Regions from separate parts of the Homo sapiens genome. Here all the other regions are linked to region 1. The links come from fine-mapping of genetic effects on gene expression. A gene starts in region 1. Each other region holds a variant in brackets. All regions are shown on one strand. Distances are from middle to middle.

Region 1 (4,089 bases):
TTCCCACAAGTGAATGACATTGACTTAATTCTTTTTCTCCAAGAAAAAGGTTATCTACCCTCTAAAGGAGAATGTTATCTACTACTATATTTGAGTGTCATACATTAAGTAAAAATCTTATTACCTAGAAAATGTAACTTCTCAGGAAAATATGACACTAAAAGTGACCAACACACCTTTGCTGTGGCTGGATGTGAAAGGTTAATCATGATTTCTAGAAGAAGCTTATTCCAAGAAACGATAAAATTAGCAGTAATTGTTCTGGCTAAGACATGAAACTGGTAACAATATTTCAAACAACCGCTTCTCTTTCCTGTCCTTTTTTTTTTAATGATGTAGAGCAATTGCTCGTCTAATGAAGGGTAAATAAATTACAGATTACTTTCAACTCATTACTCGGAAATAGGGAAACTTCCATTCCAGCAACTGCTCCTCAGAATTGAGACAAACCTCTTGCTCATATCAGACCCCACAGTCTAAATGTTTATTGTGAAAATATTGATAAATAAATGTTATGGGAGTGAAAAACAGATACAGCCCAGAACTCTGTGTTTGTCATTGATTACCATTTTCATACACACACACGCACAGTTGCCAAAATTGTCTTTCATTTTTGAACATTTCTCCTTCATTACTAGGTAAAGAACAGAACATGTACTTATACTATCAGAAATGCCAAATACTTACTTGAGTTTCTGAAATTAGTATTTTCATCCATGTGCTCTAGTAAAACTATAAAAGGGTCAATAAACACAGAGATGATCACAAACTTCCTCAACTCGGAAATCTCCACAAACGTTCAACTCTCTGGGAGGTTTCAGGTAGAAAGTTTTATATAAGCACTTATCAACTTTAATGGTCTTTTACAAGATAGTTACAGTTAGACCATTGTAAGGATCACACTTCCGTCTGCACTCTGAATGGTGGTTCAGGCATCTTTGGGCCCTCCCTTCCTGCACTCCCTTTGTTGTGCGAGGGTAAATGAGTTACAGTAATAACCCTGCAAATATCCTGCCTTGTGATTAAAACATTACCTTAATGCAGACTTTACATTTTGGCTTCTATGAAGGCTTAAAGGTTAAAGGCATCATAAATTATGCATTTCTTTCTATGCCAGGCCTGTAAAAGGTGCTTTTACAGTTCTTTAAAGATATTGCTTCTAAATGAGTACAGGCTTTTCTTTTTTTTTCTGCCAAAACAGAAACATTTCCATTATGTTTATTACTGCTGTGCTGGAGAGCCAAAACAGTTTGGAATTAAGAAACTGCTAGAGTCTGTTGTTTCAGAATGTGTAGCAACTGTTAACATACACAGTGGAGTTGCCCATTCACTGTTTGGACAGTGATATGGTAAACATGGGCTAACACACAGGTCTGCTCCCGGGAGAACGATGATCTGGTAAACTCCAGAACACCAACAGTTAGAGCTTTCCCCTTCTGCCTCCGCCCCAATTTACAGATGTGAACAGGAATTAGCGAGACACAAGACACACTAGAATATCCCTAACTCCTGCAGTGGAGCAAGCTCTATTCTGTGGATTCTCCAGTACCACACATGTCCTTGCTACCCAGCACCCTGACTTCCTCACTTTTGTCACCTCCAGCTGAAGTACAGTTCTAAGGGTCTCTTTTTTTCCTTTTACACTTACACGTAATGCATCTGCAGAAGGCTGGGCTCTTTATCTCAAGGAAGACCACACCCATTTATCCCTTAGCTTTCAGGAGCAAACTGCTGATTTAGGGACCGAAGCTGGACTGAAGCGACCCAACTTCAGCCAGGCCACAACCTCCTTCAGCTCTGCACCTCGTCTGGTTGCGGTGGAGGATTCTGGAGACAGATTGCCAGCTTTAAGAGCCAGAGTTCCTGAGATTTCTTCCAGGAGACAACCCGCACACCCTGATAACTCCGTGGCAAAGTTGTTTCTTCCTCCTCTGCTGCAACACCTTTTCCTCTCCACCTTTCCATTAGCATACGCGCGCGCGCACACACACAGCTTTGCTCACTCAACTTACCAGTTTAGATTTGGCGCGTTGCAAAAATTCTTCCATGTCGTGGCTAGGGGTTTGGAACCCGGGTACTCGGAGGGGCGCAGTGGAAAATCTCGGCCCAAGGAAGACGAGCGGGGTCCCGGGAAAGTGGCCCGCCGGGGCGCAGCGACCGACTGCTCCCTCCTGCCGCTCTGAGGCGGCTGCGGCGGAGGCTGTGCTTGCGCCCTCGACCGTCTCGCCCAGGGCTCCCCGCCCCACCCCTCGCCCGGCCGCCGGCTCTGGGCACCCGACTCTGCCCTAATAAGGAAAGTGGGTGTGCCGCCCAGGAGCCCCGGGGCGCGCCGGGCACGCTCTCTGGCACGCGCCTCGGGCGCCGTGGCGCGTGGGCGGAGGTGCAGGGGTATGGCGAGGGGCTCCTCCGCCAATCGCAGGGCCGTGCTGCGGCCTCCTGACGTGGCGCGCCGAAAGCTGCTGCAACCATGGACAGCGCCCAGAAGTGCGAGCCAAGTGCAAGGGGCTGCTGCAGAGGGAGGCTCTGCCGCAGGCACCGCCGCGGTCAGCGGGGGAAGGTGGGAAGAGGGAGACGGGTCCCAGGAGAGCCCCCGCCTCGCCCAGCGCCTCACTGGCTGGCTGGCGCGTTACGGAGCACTCCGGCGGTCACTTAATGATCTGGTCGGCTGGCCTGGCCGGGGGAGGCACTCAGCTAGATTGGCGTGGGAGGGACGAGGAGAGAAAGAGGGGAGTTACTGCTGAGCTAAAAGCAGTACGACCTTGATGGATAATAATCAGAAGAGCAGGCTAGGAGGTTGGGCGAGGCTGCGTCTTTCCTCCCTACCATGAAAACATGTCCACACAACAATGGGCATCCACAGTTCACCCCAACTAGGTGCCCTTATGTCAGCCCTGGGACTAATGCATAGATACATCCTTCTGCAGTTCCCATCCACTGACATGTACCCTCAGGGAAAGCTGGGGCAATAGAACCTTGCTAAGGTGAGGTGCAGTCTGCAGACCGGCAACATCAGCATCGCTGATCTTATAGAAATGCAGAACCTCAGTCCCCTGCTCCTACTTACCAAATCAGAATCTGTGTGTTTCTATGAGACCCTCAGATGATTTCTATGCTTGTTAAAGTTTAAGAAGTACTACAATGAACAAATGAACTTATATCTACAAACCTTATTTTAAATCATGGGGTTTTGTTGTATGTAGCCTTGTCCGGTCCCCAAACACACTACATCAGGCTTTCTCTGACCTCTGGGCTTTTGCACACCACCTGTAAGATCCTTCCAGCCCTTGTCCTAGCCCCCAGCCTCAGCTGTTCTACAGAAGTAGCCTCAACCCTGACTGCACAGTAAAATCACATCGTAATCACCTGAGACTTGAGAAAGTACTGATACCAGGGCTTTATCCCAGTCCAATTAAATTAATATCTCTGGGCATGGGGCCACAGCATTTCTGTGGAAAGTGACCCAAGTGATTCTAATGTGCAGTTCAGGTGTGATGCTCTGATTCTCGATGAACTTTACATGTATCTAAATCACTTAGAGGGCTTGATGAAACACAGATTTCCGTGCCCCATCCTTAGAATTTTAGCCCTAATAGGTGTGGCTTAATGGGCCTGAGAATGTCCATGTATACAATCTCCCAGGGTTTGCCGATGCTGCTGATCCAAAAACCACACTTTGACAGTGAGTGGCGTAGAAGTTCTCTTTCTCCAGAAAGCCTCCCCAACACACTTTTCCCTTCCCATCCCCAGACTGAGTTGGTTGCCCCTTCTGTATTCCCTCATAGCAACTTACATTTTCCACTCTGCTATAAATTGCATAATTATTTGTCTATGTCCTCCACCAGGCTGTGAGCTCTGTAAAGACAGGGACCTTGCCTGTCTCATTCACTGATGGAACCCTAACATGATGTATGTTCATGTCATATACAGGTCCTCAATAAATATGTTTTAATGAAAAAAGGTACATATGGAAGGGTTTTTTTTTTTTTTGCTCTATTTCTCCTGTCTCAATGTGTGTCTGTTTTCTTGTCTGTCTCTGTGTGTATATGTGTGTCTCATGATCCAATTATTTTTTATTCAGAAGGATCCAAT
Region 2 (4,089 bases), 200 kb before region 1:
TTTTACTGCTGTTATAATACAGGACTTAGTGAGGCATGCCTTGAAAATGTAGTTAGTTTTCTCTCTACCCTCATTGGTAGGAAGAGTGTGTCTTACAAATATGCACTAGTTTAATCAACGCAGCAGTTTCTTGGAAGTGGAAGAATGGAATGTTTCTTACCATTTGGTGGTCCTATGTCTCCACCTGCTGGTAAATCAGAATTATCTGTTTCTACTTCCCAGTCAACGTTTGATGGAGACAAAATGTTGGAGCCTGCTCCTACCGGCAAATAAACGGACTCAGGGTCTTCACGAATATGCAGCACAGCCAGCTGGGATCCAGGCAGTCTGTTTTTGGTCTCAGCCTGGTTTCCCTCACTTCTTCGATCAGGAAGTGCAGAAAGCACTATCTCTGCTGCTCTGCATCCCAGAGATTCATCCTCTGGAGACCCAGCTTCCTCTATTGTTTCAGCACTCTGGGCAGGTTCTGTGAGATAAGACAAATCAAAGGGAGGTGTGTACGGTGCCAGCGACTGCTTCAGAGAATCTTCCTCCAAAGGAGGGTCACCACCATACAGGAAGTGTTCAGGCTCTCTCAGTAAATCTTCATCGATATTCTGGCCCATTACATCATATTCAAAATCACCCCACGAGGCTTCAGATGAGCAGATATCTTGCTTCCCTAGGTCCCCATCAACTGGCGTTTCCGGATGGCCTTCGGATAATGTCAGTTTACTCATGTCATCTATTGTTCCCGTGGATGTGTTGAGACCTGAGGCATCGCTGAAACTGTGGTCAAAGGCAGCTTCGCTTATATCCAGACAAGTGTCTGAGGCTAGCAAAGCATCAGGAACCAAGGCAGGATTCTCTGTGGATAAATGTGGATCACCATCAAACAAAGCTCTTGCACCAGGCTGACTTTCAGGAGAAAAGCTGTCTGATATCCAAGAACCGTCACCTTCTGGAGTTGGCTCTTGGTGAGTTACAAAAATGCTAGTTGCCACATTTTCAATCCTTGGGATTCTTCTGTCAACTGGTTCCAAAATTGGTGCCATATCTGGGCTGGCTCCTTTTTCTGATACTTGTAAACCTGTACTGTTGTCACCGTTTATTTCAGAAGGTTCAGGTGAACCTTTATGAGAGGCGGGCTGAGAGGAGCCCTTTATGTCTGCTTGATAGCCAATTGGAGGCAGCACAGTTGCGTTTTCAGAATCGAGTTCTGCATTGGATGGGACAAACTCCCGTCCAGGCTCATAAATGGGTTCTTCATCTATCTCTGGCTCAGTGAGACAAAGCTCACTGGATTCCACTTCAGGTCCCATGCAAGCACTGAGGTGCTTCTCAGTCTCTTGCTTTGCTTCAGAATCGTGACATATATCAGGGCTGTCGGAAGCCTGAGAATTGCTGTCATGTTCGCAGTGCGTCAGGATATCAGGATTCTCACCATCTGCTTTCAAACTGAAGGGCTTCTTAGCATCTATCCACAAGTCAGGCGCGGCAGAGGCCAGCTGCCCACCCTCTTGAAAGTTGCCATGTAAAATATCTGGCACAAAGGTACCTCGGGAGTCCTCACTTGGGGTAGAGCCATCCCATTCAGAGCCTGGCTTCATTATCAGTTGGGTGGGAGAACTGACAGCAGGAAAATTTTCTGTGGCAATGCTTGAATTTGTCATCTCACCTAGGTATGATTTTTCTTGTTCCCACTGATTTGTTTCTTGACCTTCATTAGTTGAAACATTAGATGTAACACAACTATTTTCCTCTGCGTGAGTAAAGGCTGTGTCCGGATGATCACAGACTGGCAGCATGGTGTCCTGACACTGCTCTTGGGTAGGTGTTTCAGGAGTCAGCTCATCACCAGCAGCAGACACAAAGGTTTGCTCTCTTGAGTCCTTTTCTTTAATTTGGTCTAATTTTACAAGCTGGCTGAACTTGTCAGCATCTGGGTCTGGCTGCCTTGGTTGAATGTTCCAGAGTTGCTCATGGGAGTTCTTCCCATTACCTTCCAGAAAGGGTGACTGATGGTTGTCACTAAAAGGATTAGTATAGTGTGTTTCCACGGGCTCAATATCACCCTGAACTGGTACTCCCCAGGGACTGGCATTTTGGTGTACTGAAGAATTTATCTCCAACACACCACTGGAGTCAGACAGCTCCCTTTCAAATGGACTTTCAATTAGTCTCCCTTCCTGGGGTGAGGCCTTCCACCACTCAGTGCTATCAGCTGAGAAGCCCAGCATTTCCAGTTGAGAATTATCTTCGTTCTTTGGGAACGAAGCTTTGGGAGATATTTGCCATGCAACATCTCCTGTTGTCCCTGTTTCTGGAGAAGATCTCTTCTCCTTCTCCACTGCTGTAATCTGCATTTCAGTCTC[C/T]GTTAATGGTGAGAAAGTCCAGGGATCAGGGCTGCTTTGTTGATTGTCACAGAATGGGTTTGACTTATTCTCATTCTCTGCTGGCTCTGAGCTGTCTAGGTAGTCATAAATATTTTCAGACTTAGGATCAGCTGTGACCAAGAACTTATTAGATTCATTCAATGAATCCCAAGCTCTGGATTCATCCTCAGCAACGTGGCAGTTGGCCACCTGGATCTCTTCCTCTATTGACTCTTCACCACCGACACTGTCATCATCAGAACCTGAGCTTGTTGAAATGACCCTGGCATCCTCTGGCTGCACAGTTGCAGAAATGTCATGTTCATTTTTCTCCTGGTAGCTAGCAATTAGATTGCTTTCCTGATGTGTCCCTGAATGTTCAGAATATTTGCCTGTTTCAGGACTGGATAAAGAGGAAAAGGAATCACCATCAACTGAGTCATTCCAGATCTCTAAAAATGTAGGAGTTTTGCGATCAAAGCTCTTTTCAAACTCATTTATTCTGTTTTTCTCTAAATCCTTCACTTTGGTAACTATTTCTACTTGGCCATCAGTGGTAATTAGTTCAGATTCTTGGTGATTCTGTTCACTCCAGTTGCCTTGGTTTTCTTCTTGATACCCAGAACTGGGTTGCTGGCCCCAGGAGGACAGTGCAACTGAAGAGTCATTTAACTCAGGACTTGATGCACTTGAATGAGTATACTCACTAGAAATAGTATCTCTGTCAAAATTTCCAGACGAACCGGCTCCTGGAAGGCTATTTTCAGACCCCTTAACGTCAAGATTTTTGGTTATCTCAGAACATGTGCTGCTGACATGCACATCACTGTCTATAGGGACGTCCCCAAAATCAAGACTTCGGGGAACTCTGTGAGGTGGCCCTCCACCCACGTTCTCTGGCTCTAGAAAGTTACATTCTTCAGTTTTCTCAAGATCCTTTTCAGGTACAGATACATATTTTGTGAAATTCATCCCATCTGAAGTCTCAGTAGTTTCACCTGAATTTCTTTGACTCATGAGGTGTTTTTCATGGGTATCTTTTGGCTGCAGGTTATCTGCGGACATCCCTGTTTGCACATCACGGGAGTCTAGATTGTAAGACCCCTCCTCATACTCTAAAACTTCCTCTGGTTCCTCGGTTTGAGGACTGAAAGTGACAGCAAGAGAGCTGATTTTGCCTGATTTAATGCAGATTTCCTGATGTTCAGATGCAACCAGAGAAGACAGTTCCTGGTCACTCTGCCCTTTTTCAGAAATCCCTGAGGCATTCTCCACACCAGAGGCGATCACCTCCTCTTCATCAAGGTGCCCCCTGTCAGTGGCTCCCTGGGCTTCCTTCTCACTTTCACTTTGTCCATCGCCATGACCTTTCCATGGATCTGGGTGTGGAAAATACCCTGGATTCTCAAGCCTAGTCGCCAAGGATGCTGCATCACTTTGCAGGGTTTCCCTCTCTGTGTCCTGCTTGTCAAGATGAGATATAAGTGCCTCTGATTCACTGGTTCCAGAGGCTGCTGGCGCATCTGGGGAATGAGTGTCTTTAACATTTGCTGAATGGCTGGGGATTTCAGGAGGCAATTCCCTTTGCTCTGAATCTGTGATATGTGAGGAGCCTGGTAACATGAATGATGACATGTCTTTATCTCTCATGACAGAATCCCAAATACTGTTTGCAATTAGCTGCCCACTTTTCTCATTCAATGTGTGATGTTCACTGGGAGCACTGTCCTTGGTA
Region 3 (4,089 bases), 180 kb before region 1:
CTTTTTTTTTTTTTTTGAGATGGAGTATCGCTCTGTCGCCCAGGCTGGGGTGCAGTGGTGCGATCTCGGCTCACTGCAAGCTCCGCCTTCTGGGTTCACGCCCTTCTCCTGCCTCAGCCTCCCGAGTAGCTGGGACTACAGGCGCCTGCTACCACGCTCGGCTAACTTTTTGTATTTTTAGTAGAGATGAGGTTTCACCATGGTCTCGATCTCCTGACCTTGTGATCTGCCCGCCTCAGCCTCCCAAAGTGCTGGGATTACAGGCGTGAGCCACCGCACCCGGCCAGCATATCATTAATGAAGGGAGAGAGAAAATGTTTGGGAGATAATTCATCTGAAAGCACAGGTTAAGAACTCCTTGAAATCAGGCTGGGTGCGGTGGCTCATGCTTATAATCGCAGCACTTTGGGAGGCTGAGGCGGGCAGATCACTTGAGCTCAGAAGGTCGAGACCAGCTTGGGCAACATGGTGAGACCTGTCTCTGATAGAAATACAAAAAAAAAAAAAAAAAAAAAATAGCCAGGCATGGTGGTGCATGCCTGTGGTCCCAGCTACTGGGGAGGCTGGGATGGGAGGATTGGTTGAGCCTGGGTGGGGGTGGAGGTTGCAGTGAGCGGAGATCCCATCACTGCACTCCAACCTGGGTGACAGAGCAAGACCCTGTCACACAGACACACACAAAAAGAACTTCTTGAAATGAAGTGGGCTGATTTCAGGCACACCTCAAATAAGGGAGTTAAAATTCTTTCCCATCTTTTTCCATCCCATCCTATCTTCCATAAAGAAGCACTGTTGTTACACAGACAGAGAGTTGGGCCTGGAATAAAAGTAGTCCCAGGCACTCTTACAAGCAGTTAATAATAGATTGAATACTTGAATGGGGGAGTTTCACAACCAATCAAAGACAAATAAGTCATCACCTCATTAACTAACAGCCTAATTTACATTTTCTTTAAGGACAGACCCATAATCAGGAAAACTTTCCTCTATTGGATGGACTTAAGTGCTTGGCAAGGAAAGGGCTAGACTGCTGTTTCCTTTAAGGGCCCCTTTTTGTTTCTGTATGTTTATAAGGATTTCTATACGGGAACGAATAATTCAGGACACACATGTAATGAAACCCCGCTCATTAGCCATGCTCTATTTTTGAAATGGTAGAACCTGGGCTACACTCTAGCTCCCAGATAAAAATAATAATAATGAATGATTTCTATAATTATGTATAGATTAAAAAAAAAGTCCCTGTTGGCTTGTTTTGAGCCATGAGCCTGAACACTGACAGCTTTATTTTCCTTTGTAAAAATAAATCATCTAGTTTGAACCCAATTTCAAGAAAGCAGGAAAACCTTTTTTCCTCTCTGGGTTCCCCTTTCTGATTTATGGAAACCACAAGGCAAGTCTCCAGAGCACTTTCTGCACGTGTGCATTGCACACACTTCTGATTTTTCTAAGCTGTGTCAATATTAACCTGACCAAATGAAGATCAAACTGTCTCTTTTGTTCCTCACGCTCCTTGCATGGGGAGCACAATATGGCTCTTGTCAGAGGTGCTTCATCATTTTGGCTCAATGAAAGTGTCAGTACAGTTTGGGATTCGTTCTTCATGGGCAGATATCCTGATGGGTCTAATGAAGCCTCTCTGCTGACAACTCATTTGCTAAAAATACCCAACCATCGCCAAGCTTAAGTGGGGAATATGGTTGTGCCCCCTTTGCTATCAACCCAATGAAAGTAATTAGTTTTTTTTGAAGTCTAAAAAAAAAATCTATCTATCAAGGCACACACCTTTCACCACCCATCTATGTGTTCTTGCTCATTTCCATTTGCTCACTGATAAACTTTATGACATTCTTAAATTGGCATATATAGGGTAAACACCAATCTTGGAGCACACATGCAGAGCCAGCAGTCTGTGTGTACCATTTGTTGCAGTCTAAGCTAATTACCAGAAACCCCCTCCTGAAAACAGATACACTCTGGGGTTTGTGGTTTTACTTTTGTTTGGAGATGGCTGTGTTTGAGAAGCTGGAGGAATCCCTCTTCAGGTAAGGATGCTGCTGTCATGACTGTCTCAGTCACAAGTCACAGAAACTTAACTGTAACTGATTTAAGTAGAGAAAGAAGTCAGCAGGATCTGGGGAGTGTTCCCACAGAAGCCAAGAAGAGCCTGAGCAC[G/A]CGCTGGGAGAAGGGCAGGGGTTGCCAGGGATATGCAGGTCGTCCTGCCTCTCCATCCTCTTCTGGCTGCATTCTGCTGTCCTGCAGCCAACTGGCATCCTCTACACGGTGGGAACCACAGGTGGCTGCAGCATCTCTGTGTAGACCTTGCCAAATGAGTCACGACTCCCTTTTGGTCATGAGTTTGAAAACCCTGGAGAAAGAACTCTGGTTGTTCCCACTTGGGTTCGGTGCCTATCTCTGGGCAAAACAATTGAGGTAGATTGGAAAGACCACAAATCACAGACACCACACCAGTTATAACAAAGTTGGTGGGTAAGAGTCACTTCCTAGAAGAGGGATGCTGAGCAGATAAGCCCATAGGTGGGCACTTTAGACATCAAGCACGAAGGTGTAACACGCATACACAGGCACACGCACATACATTCTAACACACACATGCACACTCATCAGATACTTTCCCAAAGCCCCATTTTAGTTCCAACCAACCAAGCCTAGTTGTAGGGAGAATCATGATGCTTGGAAAGATAAGTTTAGTGAGACAATTTAGTTAACTTTTATTTTCATGTTAATTTTTATTTTACGCTCCAATTAAGGAGGGTATTAAAAAGAGGAGTGATAAATCTATAAAAGCGTTAAGCTTAGAGAATGAAAATTATGCTGAATCAATTGAAAATACATTGTACTATTTAAACAATCCAGGAAAAAGCAGTCAAGCCTCCTTAATCTTTATTCTTTCAGGTCAACATGAGGGTGTTTCTCTTTTTGGCCCTTGAAGTCTTCAGAAGCTCAAATCTCCACTATAACTGTCAAACTTCCATTGCTATTAGTACCATCTATGAGGCATTAAAATGCTTTAAATACAAATTTGAAATGTTCTACAGGCCCAGCCTTCCAGGCAGAGAATACCTGGGCTCACTCTGGTGGAACAAGAGTAGTAATTTAATTGTCATTATTTTATACAAGAGTGATTTATAGAAGGGCTCTAAGCAAGCCAAATACAGAAAAAAACCTAAATTCGTAACAGATAAAAAGTAATAACTTTAGACCAGGGTTTCTCAACCTTGGCACTACTGACATTTGGGGCTGGACAGTTCTTTGCTGTGGGGGCTGTCTTGTACCTTATAGGGTGTTTATAGCATATCTGGCCTTGACCCACTAGATGCCAGTAGCAAGCTCCCTGCCCTAGTTATGACAACTAAATATGTCCCCTGTGGGGCAAAATCACCCCAGTTAAGAACCACTGCTTTAGAGAAAAACAGCAGGAGACTCTTAGGAGCTTACAAAATAATTCAAGTCACACTCAACTGTTTCAGAAATCTTACTACATAAAGCAAGACACATGGTTAATTCTGCCTGGTTTAACAGGCAGGAGAACTAGAAAAGTAAATCAGGGATGGGGAGCATCTACATGAATACTTTTTATTAATTGGCCAAATATTTCCTTTTTCGAAGCCAGTAAAAATAACATCTTTCCATCAATTGTCTTTTAGTTTAGATTGCTGTGCTTATAAATGAAACCAAGCTTCGATTCTCTTAAACAAAGAAAACAGCAGGATGGTTTAAAAGAGCCAAGATTTTATAAAACATCTACTTCCTATTCCAGGAAAATGAAGTTTACCCAGGTATTTTCCAGAGTTGTTTCTTTCTTCTTCTTCTTCTTTTTTTTTTTTTTTGTCAAGCAAAGTTGTACTATTATTCCAACTTAGTTATGGGTAAACAGGGCTTTTTTTTTTTTTTTTTTTTTTGAAACAGGGTCTCACTTTGTCACCCAGGCTGGAGTGCAGTGGGGTGATTTCGGTTCACTGTAACCTCTGCCCCCAGGTTCAAGTGATCCTTCCACCTCAGCCTCCCCGAGTAACTGGGACTACAGGTGCAAGCCACCATGCTTGGCTAATTTTTGTATTTTTTGGT
Region 4 (4,089 bases), 270 kb before region 1:
GCAAATGCTTCATCACACTGTACCCAAATAAGATAACTGCTGAGCTGTACCCAATCAAGCTATTTCTATACATCACCTTGCTTTTCTCTGGACAAATACTGTCTGCCCACTTTGCTGGGAGGAGCTCTCTGAACCTCTCCTGGTTCTAAGTCATGCTGGATTCATAAATCATTTTTTGCTCTAATAAACTGATTGATTTGTCTAAAGTTTATCTTTTAACATTACTTAATCAAGAAAAAACATTTGTTTTATAAGTGCTGAATTATTAAGCAAACATCGATGAATCAGTAACTATGCTAATGTTTACCTTTCTACCCATTAAACTTTTTGAAAGCTTATCAGCATACATTGATTCCTACTCCCTAGTTACAACATTTCCTGAAAATATTAAAATAAGTGGCTCTTTGTATACCTTAAATAGGTCTAATATTTTTGTTTGTTTTTTGGAGGCACAGTCTCACTCTGTTGCCCAGGCTGGAGTGCAGTGGTGTGATCTTGCCTCACTGCAACCTCCTCCCAGGTTCAAGCGATTCTCCTGCCTCAGCCTCCCTAGTAGCTGGGACTATAGGCACACCACCACCATGCCTGGCTAATTTTTTGTGTTTTTAGTAGAGATGGGGTTTCACCATGTTGGCCAGGCTGGTCTCAAACTCCTGACCTCAAGTGATCTGCCCGCCTTGGCCTCCCAAACTGCTGGGATTACAGGTGTGAGCCACCCCGCTTGGCTGCTCATAATATTTTTAAAAGCAATTTAACACAGTATGGTAAACAGCTAATCTTTGCCAGAGGGAAACTAGGGTGAATCCTGCTACTCAATTGAAGATAAATTGAAATTTTCCCATCTTAAAATTATTAATTAATTTCGTCTAAAAATTCTGATAACTTCGTTTTTTCAGTGGTTTCTTCTTGTGTATAATGAAGATAATAACAGTATATCATGTGATTGTTTAGCCTTCAGTTTACCATTTTAACAATTCTTGATTTTCAGGTATATTTTTCAGCATTAGCAATTGGAAGTGGGGAATAAGAATAATAAATAAATATAACTAAATACTTAACAAGAAAGGTAGAATTTGGAAGCTACAGTAAAATCTATGTACACACAAAAAAAAGATTTTAAAGTTTATCTTTTTCCCCAGAAGCAAAGTTATCAGAATTTTTAAAAGAAATTCATTAATAACTTTGAGATGGGAAAATTTCAATTAATCTAATCTGTACCCTGATGGTGGGCAAATTTTATTGTTTTTAAAGCTATCTAGAAAGTAAATACTATCCCTTTCATTTAACTATTTGAAGTCTTACTATATTATGAACATAACTTATTTTACTTTGCATCCCTAAGATGTAAGGTTATGCAAAACCTAACATAAAATAAGTGACAAATAAATATTCACTGAATTGAAACCAAGACTCCTCAGGGGTGATCAAAACACAGCTCTCAAAATGGCTGCCCAGACTCTATATAACTTTGGTAGTTATATAAACGTTGTGTAGGTCTATTCAGAAGAAATGGCACAATTGAGACATGATATGGCTTCTGTTTCTGCCCTTGATTCATCTTTACTTTCCATTGTCATATTACTCTACCTTTCTATTCTCTACATAATAGCATATCACTTTAAATGTATTATCTATTCTCCTTTCTAATGTGGCATGAAAATCCCACCACTTCATCTTCCGTGTTTATAGCAAGCAATTTAGAGGTCCTGTTTTATAATGATCTGGGGGAAATATTCATCATGACAGCATTTTCTCTCTTAATTCGGGATTCTTGATGAATAGTCCAAAGCACCTTTCTAGGAAAGACAGAGACAAATATATTTCCCTGGGTACTCTTAGTTTATGAATTCTTGTTTTTAGGACAATGAGTACATATTTTTTAAAACTACTAGTAGTACTTTTATTTTATGACAACATTAACTGTACCTTATAAAAGGTCGTGTCACAGCAAGGATTGTTCTGATGAACCAAGATGGATGAACAATGATGAATGATTTCAAATTCTTCCTCAACCTATTTTGAAAAAAGAAAAAAAATACATTACTCTTAACCCATTTTCAGTGGGAATTAAAACATAAAACATATTCCTAAATAAGAATATATATAATTTAAGTCTGGCATGGTAGCTCATGCCTATAATCCCAGCACTTTGGGAGGCCAAGGCAGGCAGATCACCTGAGGTCAGGAGTTTGAGACTGGCCTGGCCAACATGTTGAAACCCCATCTCTACTAAAAATAAAAATAAAAATAAAAATAAAAAAATTAGCTGGGCGTGGTGGTGCCCGCCTGTAAGTCCTGGCTACTCAGTGGGTTAGACAGGAGAATCGCTTGAACCCAGGAGGCGGAGGTTGCCGTGATCCAAGATCATGCCACTGCACTCCAGCCTAGGCAACAGAGTGAGACTCCAACAACAACGACAACAACAAAAATGTGTGTGTGTGTGTGTGTGTGTGTGTGTGTGTGT[G/GTA]TATAATTTTAGGGAGTTCTATGCAAGTTACTATTACCTGGTAGGAAGATATAGAATGGCCATGATTAATTACAAGAATGCTTTTTGAGATGTAATTTGAAACTTGTATGATTCAAACGTCATTTTCTCATAGAAGTAAATGTAAAATAGAATGGTTGTGTTCTTAGAGTGCATGAATCTATAACCAACATGGTGTATTTTTGTTTAATGATGCTTTTATTCTCGTCAGTATTACCTTTACTATTTTGAAAAGAATACATGCTTAATAGCAACTTAGACAATTTATTTGATCTTATTGAGACTTGGTTTCTTCTTGTGTATAATGAAGATAATAACAGTATACCATGTGGTTGTTTAGTCTTCAGTTTACCAAAATCAAAATAGTGATTAAATAATAGAGCCCACATACCGTCTGTCAATCATCTGGTAGCATTTCTTCATCCAGCCTAGCCCTGGCATCCTCCTTCTTGGGGTTGCACCATTCAAGTACACAATCATATAGTCTTCAGCTACCATCAACTCTAAAGTACTTATTACATATCTGATCACAGGAAGGAAGAGGAATGTTTTCAGTTCCCACATCCTATTGACACCATAATTACATAACATCAAAAGTACAGGGTGTATGAAATTTAAGAATGATTGTGCATATTACCTCTTTACCTTGGGAAGAATACAATTACCTAAGAGCATTCCTCTGAGAGTATTACTCATTTATCGGTATGGCTATCTATCTTTTAAATGGAGGTACACTAGAAAAATGTATGGGTTAGAAAGAATCCTGACTTTCAAAACTGTCAACAATGTTATCAAATACTAAGGGTAACTCAGGTTAAATAAGGGCAGATATTAATGAAGTCAGGTTATAGTCAGTCTTAGCTGACTAAGAACATGTTATGAAGGAACAAAAATAATACTTTGCCCAAAGGAAATGTTACAGAATTTTAAAATGCAAGCAAAATTCTGTTCATCTTGGTTTCAGTCTAGTCTACCCACAAAAGAGCTCCTTTAAAGGTTTTAGCCCCTTGAGCAACATTCCTTGACAGAAACCTTACTGACTTTTCACTGAAGGCTTAGAACATTCTACATCATCTATTTTCTTTAATTAAAGGTGCTCTATCTGCCATTACATGCCACAGACATTAACTCAAAGCACTTTGTCATAAGTATCACTCACAGGAAAAGATTTTCCATGACATAGTGGTAATCCGCCCGACTGCTGTCTGGCAGAAAACAGGCGGCAAACACAATGATGGCATTTAGACCGTCCCCATAGTATCCTGGGGGACAAACAAAAAGACACTTGTAACCAATTGAAAGCTCTTAACAAGGTAATATCTGACCTAATGGATAAATATGAAGCCTTGGCAAGTGTGTCTTTGTGGGTATATTAGCAGCATGAAATGGGGATTATGTTGACTATAGGTCTGTAGGTATATACCCATATAGTTATCTTTCAGTGGTTAACATCTATGTTTTATAGAGTGTTAAATATATAGGGCAATTATATTTGCATATGTAGGCTATTTATATATTACGGATGATTATATTGTTGTACATAGTTGTGAAGAGGGTGTGTAAATATTCGACATCACAAAAAAATGAGAGGGGGCAAGACTGACCTA
Region 5 (4,089 bases), 210 kb before region 1:
ACATTTTAAGTAATACTTCATTAAATGGAAATGTGGGACATAGGTTATCACCAGTAATACTCCTTTTTGTCTTGCAAGATGTTCTCACAGATTGTGCCAGGGCAAAACAGTCCTAACTCAGAGTATGCTGGGCATTTGAGGAAATGCATTATTTTATTCATTATACAAAGGCAGTTAAAAAAAATTTTTTTTAAATAAGAATTACTGCTTAACTGCAGTAAATAGCATTCTATTATGTTGAAAAAAAGGGCACGTAGATGTCAAATTCTCCAGTGGAGTTTTAGTTATTCTCTGAGAGCCTAATTAATACTTTTAAATTATTATTTAATAAATGGAAGTTTAAAAAATAAATATAAAAAGGTCTTTGAAGATTACATATTATCAACAGCTGCTTGAGTTGATGGTATAATAGATGACTAATTAAATAAAACCATGTTCCTCTCTAATAAAAAAAGTTATTATTATTATTATTTGAGATGGTCTCACTCGTTCACCTGGGCTGAAGTGCAGTGGTACAATCTCAGCCCACTGCGATCTCCATCTCCCAGGTTCAAGCAATTCTCCTGCCTCAGCCTCCCAAGTAGCTGGGATTACAGGTGTGTGCCACCACGCCTGGCTAATTTTTTTGTATTTTTAGAAGAGATGGGATTTCACCATGTTGGTCAGGCTGGTCTCGAACTCCTCACCTCACGTGATCTGCCCGACTCAGCCTTGCAAAGTGCTGGGATTACAGGCATAAGCCAGCGCGCCCAGCCAGGAGAAGTTATTTCAAGGTGAAGAGATTATAATACCCATGGTATAGGCAACAGATGACCAAGAAGGAAAATTGAACAGACACACCTATTTTCTCCCCATGAGGATGAGTGACTAACAAAACTCTAAGAAAACTGAAAGGCTGAAAGAATCTTGGAGGAACTGTAATGAACAAGAAAGGCATGGGAACACTGAAAATGGGTAACTATGGCCTCAAATTACAAAAGAAGGAAAAAGATGGATTTGGTAACTTGAGAAAAGAAAGATGCATATTCCTTCCAAACTAAAACTAGCACATCTCCCTTGGGAAAAGAAGCAACAAATGCCAGAAATTATCACAGTGTCATTAGAAGCAAATTATGTTGAGCAAACTACCCTTTCTTTTCTATTCATTCAATCAGGCCTATTTATGGGGTGTCTAACATGTGGCAGGTGCTATTCTAAGCAACAGGGGTACCGTGATGAACAAGACAAACCAAACTCCTGCTTTCTTGGGGGTTATACTCTCATAGGTGGAGACAGATGCAACAGAATCAATTAAATAAATAAGTAAATAGAAGATCTTTTCAGATGGAAAAAAAAAAGTAGTAGCAATAAAATAAGGCAGAGAGATGGAGCAGAGTTCTCGACACTGGCAGTGTTGACATTTGGGGCTGGATAACCCTGTGTGGCGGGGGGCACTCCTGTGCACTGTAGGATATGTAACTGCATCCCTGGCCTCTGCCCATTAGATGACAGCAGTACCCACCCCAGTTGTGACAACCAAAATGTCTCCGACGTCAGCAAGTATTCCCTGCTGGTTCAGAACCGGCAGCTTGGACTTCTACAAAGGGTTACCCAATCCTGCACTGACTTTTTGATAGCCTTTGTTCCTGAAGAACTCTTACATAGATCTCAGAAACTGATCCTCCAATGTACTGGAGAAACAGTTAACTAATCGTGCACAGGAACATCTCAGGACAGTTTTCAGAGGCTGAGGTCCACCACTCTCCAATTCGGCTAGCTGCACTGAACAGCTTCTGTTTGCTTCGTCAGCTCTACTCTCCTACTTTCTCCATTTTGCTTTCTGCCCCAAGCCTCCCTCACCCTCCGACTTCCACTAGGTTTTTTGTTTGTTTGTTTGTTTGTTATCCAGGCTGGAGTGCAATGGCATGATCTCGGCTCACTGCAACCTCCCCCACCCAGGTTCAAGTCATTCTCATGCCTCAGTCTCCCGAGTAGCTGGGACTACAGGTGCCCGCCACCACACCCAGCTAATTTTTGTATTTTTAGTAGAGACGGGGTTTCTCCATGTTGGCCAGGATGGTCTCAAACTCCTGACCTCAAGTGATCTGCCCGCCTTGGCCTCCCAAAATGCTGGGATTACAGGCATGAGGCGCCACGCCCAGCCTCCACTAGGTTTTGACCAGTGAGGATCCCTGGTGGGAGATGCGGGGGAAGAGGCGGGAGTGCCTCCCGCTGGCCGTGTCCCTCACACTAGGTCACTATGCCTTTCAGGGTGGCCTTTTCTACCTGAAATAGTCTTTCTGGGTTCTGGTCATCACTCTGTCTCCCCACTCCTGGGGTCTAGGAAGAATAACAGCCGTACTGCTCCTGTTCTTGGGCTACGCACTATTCCTTGTGAGTTCCTCACACTTTGC[C/T]TCCATCTTCGTAAATACTCTCTTTATTAAATCTCTCAAATTTTCCTAATTTGAATGTGTCATCACTTTCTTGCTGTGCCCCTGATATGCGAATATACCCTGCTTTCGAAAGTCATGGCTTCTTGTCTTCCTCAAATACCAGCAATTTTCATAGAGATTTTTTTCCCCCTAAAGCAAGCAATGCCACTAGTTGTGATGTTTCAAGTTTCCAGCCAGAGAAGCACCTTGGGTTTTTCCTCAAACTAGAAGCCAATACAACACAAATGGACTCCTTTGTGGGCGTTCCTCCCACGGGGAAACAGAGTTGCACCACCTCATCTTGGCACTTGTGGCTCTCTCTGGCTGTAAAATCCCTCACCACAAAATACCACACCTATAAATATTTGGAAAACGTAAATGAACATTGAGGGGCTTTGATGCTCTCCCTTCCCTCTGGCCTCCAACCACTCGAGTTGGTCCCACACACCACAGATGGGGAGCAGCCCACTGACATGGCACAAGCACTCACAGATCCACCGTGGGAGCAAATATTTACTCAGGTATCAAAAAAGCCCAGTAGGTCACAAGACAGTCTGAGGAGTCAGGCATGGGTTCTGGCTCAGTCTGTCTCAAAATATCTCCTGTTACACTTTATGTGCCTTTCAACGAGATAACGGGAGAACAGGAATGAAAACATCAACCTATAGAAGCAGCTCAAGAGAAATGCTTGTTTGGGCAGCTGTGTTTCATTGACAACCACTGGGCTAGACAGAGAAGACTTAAATTTAGGTCCTAACCTCACCACTTTCTCATTTCTGGATGACATGAAGCAGTTCATGTGTTAAGTCAGTTTGCTCATCTGGCTGGGAAATGGGGAGAGGAACACTTGCCCTGTCTATCTCAAGTGTCATTTGGGTGGACCAAAGAAAATAATCTATTTGTCAGTCTGCAAGCACTTACTATGGAAAGTCTGCTCTGGGTAGGGCTGGCCAGAAATGTAGAAGTGGGTGGAGGGCATGACAGAGAGAGAAAGCAAGAGAGAAGAAGGAAATGAAGGAAAGAGACTAAGTCCTGAATTAAACTGCAAATGTAAAGGATTTTTTTTTTTTTTTGACAAAGTTTTGGTCTTTCACCCAGGCTGGAATGAAGTGGTGTGATCTCGGCTCACTGCAACCTCCGCCTCCTGGGTTCAAGCGATTCTCTTGCCTCAGCCTCCCGAGTAGCTGGGATTACAGGCGTGTGCCACCATGCCTGGCTAATTTTTGTATTTTTAGTACAGACGGGGTTTTGCCGTGTTGGCTAGGCTGGTCTCAAACTCGTGACCTCAGGTGATCCACCCGCTTTGGCCTCCCGAAGTGCTGAGATTACAGGCGTGAGCCACCGTGCCCGGCAAAGGACTTTTAATGATACTTATCACCACCAACTCACCAACATACCACACCAACAGATCAAATATAATTACAAAAATAAATGAACACAGAGTCAGTGCTAAGTTTGTTCTTCCAGGTTTGGTACAGGGCAAAGCCCAAAAATGGTGAATAGGCAAGGGCGCACTGGAGTTTAGAGAGCATCAACTCACCTCTGAGAAACGGCAAATGTTCAGAACTGGGGTACAGCTTGGTCTGCCTGATGTTTCTCAGGGTTCCCATTATCCAACACTGAGAGAAAGAGTCAACTGATTTTTAAAATCTATTTCTCATTTTCAACATTCACGTGG
Region 6 (4,089 bases), 240 kb before region 1:
GCTAATACACTCTTGAATTCCTATTACAAACACTGGGAAATAATCAATGTTTGTTGTTTTAAGCTGCTAAACTTTGATATTATTTATTTTATTCATTTATTTTTTGAGACAGGGTCTTGCTGTATTGCCCAGGCTGGAGCGCAATGGAGCGATCTCGGCTCACTCCAGTCTCCATCTCCTGCGTTCAAGTGATTCTCCTGCCTCAGCCTCCCGAGTAGCTGGGATTACAGACGTGCACCACCATGCCGAGCTAATTTTTAGGAGAGATGGGGTTTCACCATGTTGGTCAGGCTGGTCTCCAACTCCCAGGCTCAAGTGATCCTCCCACTTCGGCCTCCCAAAGTGCTGGGATTACAGGCATGAGCCATTGCACCTGGCCGAGATTATTTATTATACAGCAATAGCTAACTAATACATTCCTCATCCTAGTGAATGTCTCTACATATCACCTGGGCACTCAAGCTCCCAAACTGGCATTCACTCTTACTTTCTTTTCTTTCCCACCATTTCTTCCTCATCCAGTTGGCCATCCAATCCTATAAATTTATGTCATCCTCTCCACTCCATTCTCACTACAAAAGCCTTAGTTCAAGTTCATTTTTTTCATGCAGAAACATCACCACCTTTCTGTTTACGATCGTCATCCCTACCTCCTCCAAATTATAACTAATATCCTTCTTCATCTTAACCTTGACACCACCTTCTTGTGTTTAAATCCTTTCAATTCACCACTTCAGGGAAAGAATTTGGCTTCAGAGAAGGGCTCACAAGGCCCTCTTGACCTGGCCCCTAAGCCCAGACTCAAGCCTCCTTTCTCATTCCCCACTCCCCACTTAGCCTTGCCAATCTTGCTGTCCTGTACTACTCAGTGTGGACATCTCCATCCTGGAACCTCGCCTCCATCCCACAGAATCGGGATCTGGGACCTCACCTCCACCCCACAGAGTAAGGTCCTGGGACCTCACCTCCATCCCACAGAGTGGGGACCTGGGACCTCACCTCCTCCCCACAGAGTCGGGTCATGTCCCATAGCACCCTGTGCTTACCTCACGTGGATGCTGCCATGTTCCTATGATTTCCTGTTTGAAATGTGTCTGCCCCCACTCCTCCCCACTGCCACCCTCTCCACACACACATGAATCTCCTGGGGGACAAGCACACCCAGTGCTTAGCACAGGGCTCAGCACATGGTGGAGATGAATGAGTCACTATTGAACAACACAGATTTAGACACGTGAAGGTGCCCTGCCCTTTGGGTAAAGTGCTCCTCAGAATGTCTCACCACATAGTGAAACTTGACCATAAAAATTATCTTCCAGGCCAGGCGTGGTGGCTCACACCTGTAATCCCTGCACTTTGGGAGGCTGAGGTGGGCAGATCACCTGAGGTCAGGAGTTCGAGATCTGTGGGCGGCAAGCCACCTAGGTGCCAAGGCAAAAGACTGAGGGCACGAGCTGTTTCAGTATAATAAAATATATAAAACAACAAGAATTATACTAGATCTAGATCATAGACATGATTATATATGAATATCATTAATCATTAGTTCGTAGCAATTACTCTTTATTCCAATATTATAAGAATCTTCACTCTATAATCATAACCTAGGAAAAACCAGGCCATACAGTGATAGGAGCTGAGGGGACATAGTGAGAAGTGACCAGAAGACAAGAGTGTGAGCCTTCTGTTATGCCCGGACAGGGCCACCAGAGGGCTCCTTGGTCTAGCGGTAATGCCAGGGCCTTGGAAGACACCCGTTGCCAAGCGGACCGTGGTCTAGCGGTAGTGTCAGTGCCAAGGGAAAACACCCGCTACTTAGCAGACCTGGAAAGGGAGTCTCTCTTTCCCCGGGGAAGTTTAGAGAAGACTCTACTCCTCCACCTCTTGTGGAGGGCCTGACATCAGTCAGGCTTGCCCGCAGTTATCCGGAGGCCTAACCATCTCCCTGTGATGCTGTGCTTCATTGGCCACGCTCCTAGTCCGCTTTCATGTTCCATCCTGTACACCAGGCTCTGCCTTTTAGATAGCAGTAGCAAAATTAGTGAAAGTACTAAAAGTCTCTGATATGCAGAAATAATGGCGTAAGCTGTCCTCTCTCTCTCCCTCTCTCTCTGCCTTGGCTGCCAGGCAGGGAAGGGCCCCCTGTCCAGTGGACACGTGACTCATGTGACCTTGTCAATCATTGGAGATGACTCACACTCCTTATCCTGCCCCTTTTGCCTTGTATCCAATAAATAACAGTGCAGCCTTGCATTCAGGGCCACTACCAGTCTCC[G/C]CGTCTTGGTGGTAGTGGTCCCCCGGGCCCAGCTGTCTTTTCTTTTATCTCTTTGTCTTGTGTCTTTATTTCTGCAATCTCTCGTCTCCGCACACAGGGAGAAAAACCCACTGACCCTGTGGGGCTGGACCCTACAGAGATCAGCCTGACCAACATGGAGAAACCCTGTCTCTATTAAAAATACAAAATTAGCCGGCTGTGGTGGTGCATGCCTGTAATCCCGGGTACTTGGGAGGCTGAGAAAGGAGAATCACTTGAACCCAGGAAGCAGAGGTTGGGGTGAGCCAAGATCGCATCATTACACTCCAGCCTGGGCAACAAGAGCGAAACTCTGTCACAAAAAAAAAGAAAATTCTCTTCCAACAAATTCCTTTTGATAAGAAGTTTAGCTTTTGTCAAAACATAATTTAGAAATATAGGTGATGCTTATGGGAGTGTTTTACAAAGAAGTCATCACTGTGAACCCAATTAGGCAACGGTCACTCTCTGGTGTGGCACATATTGTGCTCTCTCCTCCAACAGTAAAAGCTCTTTGATAATATTAGGAGCAACTGGGAGTGAATTTGAAAGAATGAGGTTCTTCCGAAGGGAAGGGGGAAAAGTAGACCATTGTTTTTCTTCAGAATTGGAGACAATCTTCAATGCCAGGGATGCCAGCATCTGCAGGACGCCCAAGTGAGCAGCAGAACTGGCTGGGCTGGCAGCATAGGCTCCTGCCATCTGCAGCCCCCATTTCACCTGCTCAGCATCTCCTGGGATTTACACTTTGGGAAGACTGCCTGCCTGCCCCACCCTCCTGCCCATAAGATAAGCTCACAAAGGGTCCCCTTCCCCACAGTGCAATGCAAAGCTGCACTCTTGCAGTCTGACTTCCTGCCCCAAGTAGTTCAAGAGTGTGAAGTCATCCAAATGCCTTGGACAAGCTGGCACCAGAAATATGAACCACAGGAACACACATAGATAAGATATTCCTTCAACTGCTGCTCAGCAGTTATATTTGCTAATCTGCAGGACATGGGAGGGTTGCCTTTGACTTTTCTGGAGGTGGAATCAGCACAGTGTTTCTGGAAGGGCTAGATACTGAATATGTTGGGCTTTACATGCTCTACAGTTTCTGTGGCAACAACTGAGCTCTGTTGTCCTAGCACAAACGTAGCTATAGACAATATGTAAATGCATAGGTATGGCTGTGTTCCAATAAAACTTTATGGACAAAAATAGGTGGCTGACTGGATTGGGCTTGGTGGGTAGCGTAGGGGGAGGTTTGACAACCGCTGTCCTAGAGTCTAACAACTTAAATAACATTTCATTTTCTTAAAGTTGAATATATATTTAAAACTGTGAAGCTCTCATATTGGTGCAAGTGGTACACCCAAATGTGTTTCTATAAGGAATATAAATTGAGGTACAGTTTTTGGTTGTAGTCATCAAAATTTTAAATACACATAGCCTTTGACCAGCTGTTCTAAGAATATATAGTGCAGAATACTCACAGGTATATACCAAGATATATGTAAAAAGATGTTTACTGTAAAAATACAAAAACAAAACTGGAGGGTTTTCAAAAACAGTCTGAATTTGATGATCATGCAAACACGAAATAATTAAAAATTTCTCAGATCTCTGATTTTCCCAACTGTGCTATGCTGAATCTTCCTTCCCTACATCATGCTATCTTGTTACTTTCAATTACTAAAATCTAATCTAGTTTAAAACATCCAGTTTCTCATCTAAAAATTCTATCTCCTTCACTCTCCTACCTGGGCCAACCAAAGCTGTGCTTCAGGGAATTTGGGATAGGAAGGGTTCTCCCA

Direction of the effects. Positions count from the first base shown, and alleles are read on the strand shown. Sizes are in standard deviations (SD) of each study's normalised expression. Not every link is listed here.
In carriers of allele C in region 2, the expression in T cells of the gene that starts at base 2,199 in region 1 tends to be higher than with T alone (large effect, 0.90 SD a copy in GENCORD).
For the expression in B cells of the gene that starts at base 2,199 in region 1, G is the low allele of the variant in region 4 and GTA is the other (moderate effect, 0.59 SD a copy in Fairfax 2012).

What was found. PIP is the estimated chance that this variant, and not a neighbour inherited with it, causes the effect. A credible set is the group of variants that fine-mapping cannot tell apart.
Region 2: its variant is the best candidate, but not a certain one, in a credible set for the expression of PRUNE2 in T cells (GENCORD, PIP 0.51).
Region 3: its variant is the best candidate, but not a certain one, in a credible set for the expression of PRUNE2 in cerebellum (GTEx, PIP 0.54).
Region 4: its variant is the best candidate, but not a certain one, in a credible set for the expression of PRUNE2 in B cells (Fairfax 2012, PIP 0.63).
Region 5: its variant is the best candidate, but not a certain one, in a credible set for the expression of PRUNE2 in whole blood (INTERVAL, PIP 0.88).
Region 6: its variant is the best candidate, but not a certain one, in a credible set for the expression of PRUNE2 in testis (GTEx, PIP 0.86).

The regions. Positions count from the first base shown.
Region 1 is chr9:76,903,916-76,908,004 of GRCh38, forward strand. PRUNE2 (prune homolog 2 with BCH domain) reads right to left here and starts at 2,199. Exons shown (of 19, transcript NM_015225.3): 1 at 2,013-2,199. The coding sequence starts at 2,048. RefSeq lists a silencer at 2,269-2,328.
Region 2 is chr9:76,704,601-76,708,689 of GRCh38, forward strand. PRUNE2 (prune homolog 2 with BCH domain) reads right to left here. Exons shown (of 19, transcript NM_015225.3): 8 at 161-4,089. Among named protein-coding and RNA genes, the nearest start is that of PCA3, 58 kb to the right of the region's middle. The variant C/T (reference allele first, on the strand shown) is at 2,355.
Region 3 is chr9:76,723,810-76,727,898 of GRCh38, forward strand. All of the region lies in intron 6 of PRUNE2 (prune homolog 2 with BCH domain), which reads right to left. Among named protein-coding and RNA genes, the nearest start is that of PCA3, 39 kb to the right of the region's middle. The variant G/A (reference allele first, on the strand shown) is at 2,176.
Region 4 is chr9:76,634,545-76,638,633 of GRCh38, forward strand. PRUNE2 (prune homolog 2 with BCH domain) reads right to left here. Exons shown (of 19, transcript NM_015225.3): 13 at 3,642-3,744; 14 at 2,874-3,005; 15 at 1,927-2,013. The region is part of intron 6 of LOC105376095 (a long non-coding RNA gene); the gene reads left to right. Among named protein-coding and RNA genes, the nearest start is that of PCA3, 130 kb to the right of the region's middle. The variant G/GTA (reference allele first, on the strand shown) is at 2,465.
Region 5 is chr9:76,694,583-76,698,671 of GRCh38, forward strand. All of the region lies in intron 9 of PRUNE2 (prune homolog 2 with BCH domain), which reads right to left. Among named protein-coding and RNA genes, the nearest start is that of PCA3, 68 kb to the right of the region's middle. The variant C/T (reference allele first, on the strand shown) is at 2,394.
Region 6 is chr9:76,664,434-76,668,522 of GRCh38, forward strand. The region is part of intron 9 of PRUNE2 (prune homolog 2 with BCH domain); the gene reads right to left. LOC105376095 (a long non-coding RNA gene) reads left to right here. Exons shown (of 12, transcript XR_007061586.1): 12 at 1-106. Among named protein-coding and RNA genes, the nearest start is that of PCA3, 98 kb to the right of the region's middle. The variant G/C (reference allele first, on the strand shown) is at 2,276.